2 separate regions of the Homo sapiens genome follow, and region 2 is linked to region 1. Evidence: fine-mapped expression QTL. A gene starts in region 1. The other region holds a variant in brackets. All regions are shown on one strand. Distances are between the middles of the regions. Region 1 holds the start of FBXO31 (F-box protein 31). Region 2 overlaps FBXO31 (F-box protein 31).

What was found. PIP is the estimated chance that this variant, and not a neighbour inherited with it, causes the effect.
Region 2: its variant is fine-mapped to the expression of FBXO31 in whole blood (TOPMed, PIP above 0.99).

The regions. Positions count from the first base shown.
Region 1 is chr16:87,381,413-87,386,412 of GRCh38, reverse strand. FBXO31 (F-box protein 31) reads left to right here and starts at 2,637. Exons shown (of 9, transcript NM_024735.5): 1 at 2,637-3,008. The coding sequence starts at 2,669. TRM-CAT6-1 (tRNA-Met (anticodon CAT) 6-1) reads left to right here and starts at 2,319; the gene lies at 2,319-2,391. LOC124903747 (a long non-coding RNA gene) reads right to left here and starts at 2,480. Exons shown (of 2, transcript XR_007065168.1): 1 at 2,217-2,480. RefSeq lists enhancers at 1,529-2,180, 2,181-2,834 and silencers at 2,242-2,901, 3,042-3,281.
Region 2 is chr16:87,339,791-87,344,790 of GRCh38, reverse strand. FBXO31 (F-box protein 31) reads left to right here. Exons shown (of 9, transcript NM_024735.5): 4 at 1,026-1,193; 5 at 1,840-1,914. Among named protein-coding and RNA genes, the nearest start is that of C16orf95-DT, 25 kb to the right of the region's middle. The variant G/A (reference allele first, on the strand shown) is at 2,116.

The DNA of each region.
Region 1 (5,000 bases):
CACATAAAATCGTCCTGCATACAATTCATCTGCATACCACGCTGCTCACTGAAGCCTGAGTTGGCTTCCCAAAACACCACTTTCATCACTGTGTCATTCCCGAATTTGCGAGGGCTTCATCTGTCTTCCACGAGTTCACATTCTAACTCCAACCTATATTTTATCTCTTTTTCTTGTCATTTTTCATTTCCATCCTATATTTTCAGCTTCTGCTCAGACCACACCCTGGACTGAACCAGCCTCCTGTTTCCCTCAGGCCTCCTGAGGTCCCTGATCTCCGGCAAGTGATGCTCCTTCTCACCATCGTCTGTGCCATTGCCTTGAAAACTCCCTTCCTGGCCTCGCCTACTACATGAGCCAGGGACAACCAGCTGTCCTTTTATTCTTTTCTTTTTTTTTTTTGAGAAAGAGTCTTGCTCTGTCGCCTAGGCTGGAGTGCAGTGGCTCAATCTCGGCTCACTGCAACCTCCACCTCCCGGGTTCAAGTAATTCTTCTGCCTCAGCCTCCTGAGTAGCTGGGATTACAGGTGCCCGCCACCATGCCCGGCTAATTTTTGCATTTTTTCAGTAGAGACAAGGTTTCACCATGTTGGCCAGGCTGATCTTGAACTCCCAACCTCAGGTGATCTGCCCGCCTTGGCCTCCCAAAGTTCTGGGATTACAGGTGTGAGCCACCAGGCCTGGCCGCTATCCTTTTTTTCTAGAACATTCTCCCATCAAGTGTTCTCCTCCTGGCTAACTCCAAATTTTCCTTTGATTTATAAATGTCATTTCCTCAAAGAACCTTTGATCATCCAAAGTCTGGTCTCTGCTATAAGATCTTGTTAGTTTTACTTATTGTTAGAGCATTACAATTTATAATTTATGTATTTATCTATGTGGTTACTTGTTTAATGGCTGATCTCCCTGGTAGATAGCAGGATGTTATTAGTTGAAACCATTTTTTTTTTTTTTTGAGACAGAGTCTTGCTCTGTCGCCCAGGCTGGAGTGCAGTGGCACGATCTTGGCTCACTGCAAGCTCTGCCTCCCGGGTTCACACCATTCTCCTGCCTCAGCCTCCCGAGTAGCTGGGACTACAGGCACCTGCCACCACACCTGGCTAATTTTTTGTATTTTTAGTAGAGACGGGGTTTCACCGTGTTAGCCAGGATGGTCTCAATCTCCTGACCTCATGATCTGCCCGCCTCGGCCTCCCAAAGTGCTGGGATTACAGGCGTGAGCCACCGCGCCCGGCCTAATTTTTTAAATTATTTGTAGAGATGGGGGCGTCTCACTATGTGGGTAGGCTGGTCTCCGACTCCTGGGCTTAACCGATCTACCCGCCTCGGCCTCCCAAAGTGCTAGAATTACAGGCGTGAGCCACTGCGCCTGGCCTGTGTGGTTTGTTTGTTTGTTTGTTTGAAGAGACAGGGTTTCACCATGTTGGTCAGGCGGGTCTCAAACTCCTGACCTCAGGTGATGCACCCTTCTCCGCCTCCCAAAGTGCTGGGATTACAGACGTGAGCCACCGCGCCCAGCCATTTGTGGCTATTTTTGTTTTTTGTTTGTTTTGGAGACAGGGTCACGCTGTGTTGCCCAGGCTGAAGTGCAGTGGCACCATCACGGGTCACTACAGCCTCGGCCTCCTGGGATCAAGCGATCCTCCCGTCTCAGCTTCTCTTTCTAAAATTTTGTTTTGTAGACAGGGTCTCGCTGTATTGCCCAGGCCGGTCTCGAGCTCCTGGCCTCGATTGATACTCCCGCCTGGGCCTCCAAGAGATGGGGTCCGAGGCGAGCCCACGGCGACGTGCGCGGCTGCTCAGGTGAGAGGACGCCTTCGCGGTCACCACCCGCGGACCTGGGAGACGACCCCGCTCAGCGGCCTCGGCGGAGCCCAGCTGGAGCAGGCGTGCGCGGCTCCCAGCAGCTGCAGGAACAGGCGCCCTTTGGGCGGCGCCGCATGGCAGGGCCTCCCTTTCCAGACCGGGCGCGCATCCCCGGATCTCTTGGGCCGCGCCGGCCGCCGCCCCTCCAAGCCCTCCCCGGGGCTTCCGCAGGGAGCTCGGGATCCCCGAAGGTCCCTGCAGAGCTCCGCAGCTCGGGCCTTTTGGTTACCATAAGGCGGAGACGATGGAACGCGCGTTGTTTCAATGGACAAAAGGGCTTCTAGGCGCCCTTTGGGGTTCTGGCTGCTGCCTCTGTATTTGGAGGCTGTAAGGCGCATCTTTCTACTCACCGGCCGGCGCGGCACAGTTTCGGGCGCCGGAAGCGGGACGCACGGGCGCGAGGGGCGACCCCTATCTCCACAAAAGCCGCGGCGCGAAGTGGTCGCCGAGCAGCCTCGTTAGCGCAGTAGGCAGCGCGTCAGTCTCATAATCTGAAGGTCGTGAGTTCGAGCCTCACACGGGGCAGTCTAACGTTTTGCACTCGGCATCACCACTTTCTTTTCTCATGCCCGTCACGGGCGGCGCCCTCACGCTGGAGGGGAGGGCAGCAGTGCGGGGTCTCTGAGGTCGCCGCCCCGCGGGGAGGGGGTGGCGCGGCCGGGGCGGAGCTCTACGTAGGGGCGGGGCTAGGCTCTCCAGGGGGCGTGGCGAGCTCTGCGGCGGGGGCGTGGCTCGGCGCTGGCGGGGCGGGGCCGCGCTGGAGCGTGCGCACAGGCGGCAGCAGTGGCCGTCACTGGGCGGCATGGCGGTGTGTGCTCGCCTTTGCGGCGTGGGCCCGTCGCGCGGATGTCGGCGCCGCCAGCAGCGCCGGGGCCCGGCCGAGACGGCGGCGGCCGACAGCGAGCCGGACACAGACCCCGAGGAGGAGCGCATCGAGGCTAGCGCCGGGGTCGGGGGCGGCTTGTGCGCGGGCCCCTCGCCGCCGCCCCCGCGCTGCTCGCTGCTGGAGCTGCCGCCCGAGCTGCTGGTGGAGATCTTCGCGTCGCTGCCGGGCACGGACCTACCCAGCTTGGCCCAGGTCTGCACGAAGTTCCGGCGCATCCTCCACACCGACACCATCTGGAGGAGGCGTTGCCGTGAGGGTGAGCGCGCGGGGGTGGCGGGGCCGGGAGGGGCGGGGGGTCCCTGCCAGGTGGAGGCCTCGGAGCTGGGAGTGGCGGGGGCGGTGGCCCCGGCCGGGGGCCACCAGTTGGGCGCGGGGCCCGGCGATGTGGTGTTTTGGGTGTGGGTGGGGAGCGGCCGCGGTGACACCACGTTGAGGGGGCCAGGGAGGTATTTGAGGCGGTTAGGGAGGGTCCGAGGGGTCCAAGAGAGGCAGACGGGGTAGGGAGGGGTTGAGGGCGTCAGGGAGGCATCGAAGAGGCCCTGACGCGGGGCACGGGACACCACGGGGCCGAGGCCGTGCCGGGAGCTGGGGCTGGGATCCCTCGAGGTCTGCGCGGGGCCTAAGCTGACGCCTGGGGGCCGCCTCCTCTGCCCCTGTCTTGAAGGCGAGCCGAGGGTGCCCCGCTGGCCCTGACCAGAGACGAGGTGAACTTGAAGAAATGGGAGCAGGCCGGGCGCGGTTTCACGCCTGTAATCTCAGCACTTAGGGAGGCCGAGGCGGGCGGGTCACCTGAGGTCAGGAGTTCGAGACCAGCCTGGTGAAGATGGTAAAACCCCGTCTCTACTTACAAAAATACAAAAATTAGCCGGGCGTGGTAGCGGGCGCCTGTAATCCCAGCTACTCGGGAGGGTGAGGCAGAAGAATGGCTTGAACCCGGGAGGCGGAGGTTGCACTGAGCCAACATCTGGGCCATTGCACTCCACCCTAGGCGACAGAGTGCGACTTGGTCTCAAACAACAGCAACAAAAAAAATTACGGGAGTAGGGGAAGCCCAGTGTCGGGGGCTCCTGATGGTGGGGGCGTAGAGAGACGGATGGATCACAGCGGTGCGGGCTGGACTTTTGCCTTCAGCAATATTGGATGTAACAGATCACAGGAGGAGATGTTTATTTAATCTGGAGTTCAAGGCTCTCTCTGTTTAAAGGTTGACAGCTCTTTGATGTTCAAGCAGCTCATATTTAGGTAAAAAGGACAGGTTAGAAAACATCCAAGCGATGCAGAACAGCAAAAGGAACAAAGTAAATACCATCAGAGACCCCAGCAGTCAAAAATAAACCACTCTTAACATTTTAAAAAACCTCTGAGTCGTGTGTACCTTCTTCCCTAAAGGATATAATGCAATATATATTCTCTTAGAGACAGTGTAGTGTAAACAATGCTACATAGTATTTCACTCCCTGCATGTAGCACAGACTCGTCCCTCACTGATAAGCTTTGAAGTCTGCATTTTTTCCATGCATAAACAGTGCTTTGAAGACTGCTTTGTGCATTTTATAGAAATTTAGGAGATTGACATGTATCCTTGGGAACTTCTGAGATTGTCTCGGTGGGATGCACTTCCTTCTTTTTTTTTTTTGAGACGGAGTCTCACTCTGTCACCCAGGCTGTGGAGTGCAGTGGCGCGGTCTTGGCTCACTGCAACCTCCGTCTCCCAGGTTCAAGTGATTCTCCCGCATCAGCCTCCAAGTAGCTGGGACTACAGATGCGTGCCACCGTGCCCGGCTAATTTTTGTATTTTTAGTAGAGACGGGGGTTTCACTATGTTGGCCAGGATGCTCTGGAACTCCTGACCTTGTGATTCACCCGCCTCGGCCTCCCAAAGTGTTGGGATTACAGGCGCGAGCCCCCACGCTGGCTGGTAGGGTGCAGTTCCTCAAGTGGGATTGTGGATTTGTAGGACTGCATGTTGATGAAACCTTTGCAGCCTGTTGTCGGGCTCTTTGAGTTTGCACCCCAAGGAGGTCTGCATGAGAAGAACCCTTTCTCCAAGTCCTCCCGGACAGAGTTCGTCATAAATTATTTTTGTTGCTTAATGGTCGAGGCCCCTGATTTGGAGTCAGCTGACTTGGGCCCCAGCCCAGGCTCGTGTTTATCTGCTGTGAGATCCTGGACAAGCTGCTTCACCTTCCCAAGTCCTGTTGGGAGCATGAGTGGGAAGTGCTGCTCCCGGAGGTGCTTGGAGGGTGAA
Region 2 (5,000 bases), 42 kb after region 1:
GTCGCGTGCTCCAGCCTTGCTTTTAGGATGTTTCCTCTGAGAGACCAGCCCGGCAGCTCACAGGGTGGGCAGATTGCTTTCCTTTCTTTTAGTGGAGGAAGGGTAATTGTTTTACTTACTGGCAGTGAGTAATAGAGTAAAAAAAAAAACCCCAAAAAACAAAAAGCAGTGGATAATTGGGGAAAGTGGAGTCTGTGAGAGAACAGCACCAGCTCACGCTTGACCCAGGCTCGTGAGCCACAGAAATGATGGAATTCTCTCCTTGGTTGCTGGAGCTGGCAGTCTCATGGGTCCCAGCTCTCCCAGAAGGGGGTGAGGCTAGGCTGTCCTTCCTTATAAGCATGTGGCTGCTGTGGCCAGAGCGTGCTGGGGCCCACCCGCCTCTGCATTTGCACGATCGGCGCCCGGACACGCGAGATCGCACGGGCAACGCACTCCTCGGCTCTTCCCGCTCCTGAGCGCCCCTCCCGGGGTCTTGGCGTCTCTCTCCTCCCCTGCACTTCGGTTTTGAAGCAAATCCCAGGCCCGTGGCATTTCAGCTGTCCGTCCCTCCGGGCAGCGCCCTAAGAAAGGGGGTGTTTCCTGCATCTCCGTGTCACTGCCACACCTGACAAAAGTGGCACACGGTCCTTGTGTTGCCTGTTGCCCAGGCCATGGGATGCTTCCCTGATCATCTCAAAGCCTCCTTTGAATGGCAATTTGTTCAGCTCAGGACGCGAACGAGGCCCTTGCACTGCTGTTGTTCACTCTTTCCTGTTGGGAGATGCACCCCCTTTCCCTCTGTCTGGTCGGCACCTCACCCCGTGTCACTTTCTGGATTATTCTGCCTCCTCCTGGTGTCCACCTGCATCTCAGAGCTGGAAGATAGTGCTGGGATTCGAGGCACCTCGAGGGTGGGCGTGCAGGTCCCATGTGCTGGTCTGGCAGGAGCTTCTCTGTGCCATTGCAGTGCGGGGAGCCGTGCGGGGCCGCCCTTGCTCTGGCCCGGGAGCCACTCATGGACCTTTGCCCATCTCCTCCTGTAGGTGGACGGCCTGTTCATCATCGGGTGGATGTACCTGCCTCCCCATGACCCCCACGTCGATGACCCTATGAGATTCAAGCCTCTGTTCAGGATCCACCTGATGGAGAGGAAGGCTGCCACAGTGGAGTGCATGTACGGCCACAAAGGGCCCCACCACGGCCACATCCAGGTGTGTGCAGCGGCGGGGCTGGGTCCTCACTGTCCCAGGGCTGTCCTGTGTGGGCTCCAGCCAGGCCTGCCGTGCTATTCTCAGCTGCAGACCTGGGCTGTAGCAGATCGGCGGGTGGGAGGGAGGCTCCGCCCTGCCCTGCTGTGCATTGTTTACGCCTCCGTGGCGCAGTGGACTCTGCAGCGGTCACTTGCTGGACCCCTCTTGATTCTGCTCTCAGTTAGAGCCGCTGTTTCTTTGCAACTTCAGTTCCTCTGTCTTTTTTTCCTGTTTGCAAGAATATCAGTGTGGAATCAAGTGCGCTCTCTGTTCTCTGATCTGGTCTGGCAGTGGCCCCCACGGTGAGCACAGCGTGTCATCTGCCACACCTTGTGTGTGAGATGCAGCCCTTTTGCTGCTCTGTGTCACGCTGGGAAATGCAAACGCCACTCTCTCAGATGTGCCACTGCCTCCTGCTCTTGGGGGAGTGTTGCTCAGGGAGACTCAGCTCCCTCCGCTGGCACCGCGTTGGTCGCATCTTGGGTGCCTGCAGTGGGGTTTGGTGGGTGTGGTGAGGGAGGGGTCGTGGCCACCTGCCTGGGGTGGGGGATGCTGTGATGGACTCTGTTCCTCACTCTTCTCTTTCCTTGTGTTGCAAACACTGAAGATTGTGAAGAAGGATGAGTTCTCCACCAAGTGCAACCAGACGGACCACCACAGGATGTCCGGCGGGAGGCAGGAGGTGAGCCCACCAGCCGGCCCTGTGTTCATATGGTGCGGACCTTTCCTTTCCCCACGGGGAAAGTACAGACCCATGCGGGAGAGAAGTCAGCAGCATGCGACCTGCATGGTGGCTGTTTCACATGGTTCAGCCGGTATTGTCAGTGCAGACCGTGCATCCGGCACACTCGAGGAACAGCATCGTGCGGGCGGGCAGGTTGCC[G/A]GTCCCCTCCCCCTGCAGAACGAACGAACCACACAGGCCGTTTCTTCAGTTAGCTCTGCTTTGCCCCTCTGGCGGGCACATCCACTTGCTGAGGGGTTGCTGGGAGGCTGCTTCTAGGATGTGAGCTGCAGGGAGACCCGAGGGCTGCACCCAGAGTTCCTGTGTTTCCCATCCTTGAGCAGACCGTGTGGAGGCTTCCGGATCGTGCCAGTGCAGCGGGGAAGCCTGTGTGTGATTGTTTGCCTGAGTATTTTAATATTGCCCTTGAGTTTTAGCTTTCAAGGATCTAAGTCTTACTGCCCTCTCAAAATACTCTTAAGAAGGAAGGTGCGGTGGCTCACACCTGTATTCCCAGCTCTTTGGGAGGCTGAGGCAAGAGGATCACTTAAAGTCAGGAGTTCAAAACCAGCCTGGGCAACATAGTGAGACCCTGTCTCTACAAAAACCAAAAATATTAGCTGGGTATGGTGGCATGCCAGCTACTCAGGAGGCTGAGGTGAGAGGATTGTCTGAGCCCAGGAGGTGGAGACTGCAGTGAGCTATGAGCGCACCACCGCACTCCCATGTGGGTGGCAGAGTGAGACCCTGCCTCAAAAGGAAAAACAAAAAATTAGCCAGGCATGCTACCATGCTACGGGGTTATGCCATGTTGCCCAGGCTGGTCACAAACTCCTGGGCTCAAGCCGTCTTCCCACCTTGACCTCCCAAAGTGCTGGGATTGCAGGTGTGAGCCATCGCGCGCGGCCAGGGTGTGCTTTTCTTAGCTAGTTTGAGTTGTGGTGGTTTCCCCATCAGCCAGAGGACTGCAGAGAAGGTTGAGATGAACCAAATGTCCTGTTTCTCGGAATTCTTTGCAAGTAAGTGACGTTCCTGTTTTCTTGAATAGATGGCATGTGAAGATGATCAGTAACGGAAATGTTTTAATTATGCTGTTATTTTAGATTTGATTTTATATACAGAAACACAACGTATGTGTGTGATTGCTGTGGTTCAATTTTTTTTTTTTTTTTTTTTTTTTTTGAGACGGAGTCTCGCTCTGTTGCCCAGGCTGGAGTGCAGTGACGTGATCTTGGCTCACTGCAACTTCCGCCTTCCCGGTTCAGGCAGTTCTACTGCCTCAGCCTCCTGAGGAGCTGGGCTTAGAGGCACCTGCCACCATGCCTGGCTAATTTTTGTATTTTTAGTAGAGATGGGGTTTCACCATGTTGGCCAGGCTGGTCTCGAACTCCTGACCTCAGGCGATCCACCCATCTCGGCCTCCCAAAGTGCCGGGATTACAGGTGTGAGCCACTGCTCCTGGCCTTATGGTTCACATTTAAGTGAAAAATGTCAACAGATTTTTCAAGAATAGAAACTCCTCAGCTGTTGAGCCCTTAAAAAAGAAAACCATATTACATTTCTGGTACTATATACTTTGGGATTAGGAAAAGTTTCTGTAAGCCTACTTCTGTGTGTGGGCTCACTGATTTTGAACTGGAGTAGTGTTTTTCCTGATTGTAAATATAACAACATGTGCTCCTTGTGGAAATGAGAGAAACACCCAGGAGTGAGGGTGAGAGGGAAGGTATTGCTGGAATCTTGATGGGGGGAGTTTATGTTTCCCTTATTCTGAGTGAGACCAGCCTAGTGTCTTGGGATCAGGAGCTCTCTGTGGTTTTATGAACTGTTTCATGAACTGTCTGGTCATAGCCTGTGCCTCTGTTTCTGTTTGGTGTTGGCGGGTTTCAAGTGGGTTTGTAGGAGCTTGTTAACTATTAGGAAATCGAAGCCCTTCCAGATAGGAGTTGCCAGGTTTTTTTCTTATTCCTTTTTTTTGTCTTTGGATTTCTCTTATGGTGTGTTTTCCATCCATGGAATTTTTTATTTTTAATGTTAATTTTTAAGAGAGAGGGTGTCTCACTTTGTTGCCCAGGCAGGTCTCAAACTCCTGGCTCGAGTGATCTTACCGCCTTGGCCTCCCAAAGTGCTGGGGCTACAGGCATGAGCCACCACGCCCAGCCGTATTTTTAATTTTTACATAAGCAGATGTATCCATCTTTCTTTAAAAGACTCTCAGTTTAGTGCCATCCTGAGATCTCTCCCTGAAGCACATATGTTTACAAATGAGCTCATGCTTTTATTTTTCTCTTGTGTCTGTGTCTGGTTCCGTTGGATCTATTCTGATGTGAAATGTAAGGCTTAGCCCCAGCCTTGGTTCTGTGCAGACCTGATCTGTTATCTCCACACTGGATGCGTGATAACCACACTTCCTACATCAATTTGTAGCGCTGCTTTTGTCCTAGGTTACCCTGTATACTTGGTTCATTTCTGGACTTGATACTCTGATCCATATGTCTGTCCACATGTCAGTACCACACTATTCTCATTCTTATAGTTTTTGTTTGTTTTTGAGATGTAGTCTCGCCCTGTCCCCCACACTGGAGTACAGTGGTATGATCTTGGCTCACTGCAACCTCCGCCTCCTGGGTTCAGGTGATTCTCCTGCCTCAGCCTCACTCCCAAGTAGCTGGTATTACAGGCGCCTGCCACCATGCCTGCCTAATTTTTATATTTTTAGCGGAGACAGGTTTTCCCCATGTTGGCCAGGTTGGTCTCGAACTCCTGACCTCAGGTGATCCGCCCACCTCGGCCTCCCAAAGTGCTGGGATTACAGGCGCGAGCCACCGCGCCCGGCCGAATTCTTGTAGTTTTATCGCTATGTTTTATTTTATTTATGGCTTAGAGATAGGGTCTCACTGTGTTGCCCAGGCTGGGCTCAAGTGATCCTCCTACCTCAGCCTCCCAAAGTGTTGGGATTATAGCTGTGAGCCATTGCACTGGCCTATCACTGTATTTTAATTGCCTGTATTCCTCTTCTATTTTGGAATGTTCCCGGCTCATCTTGT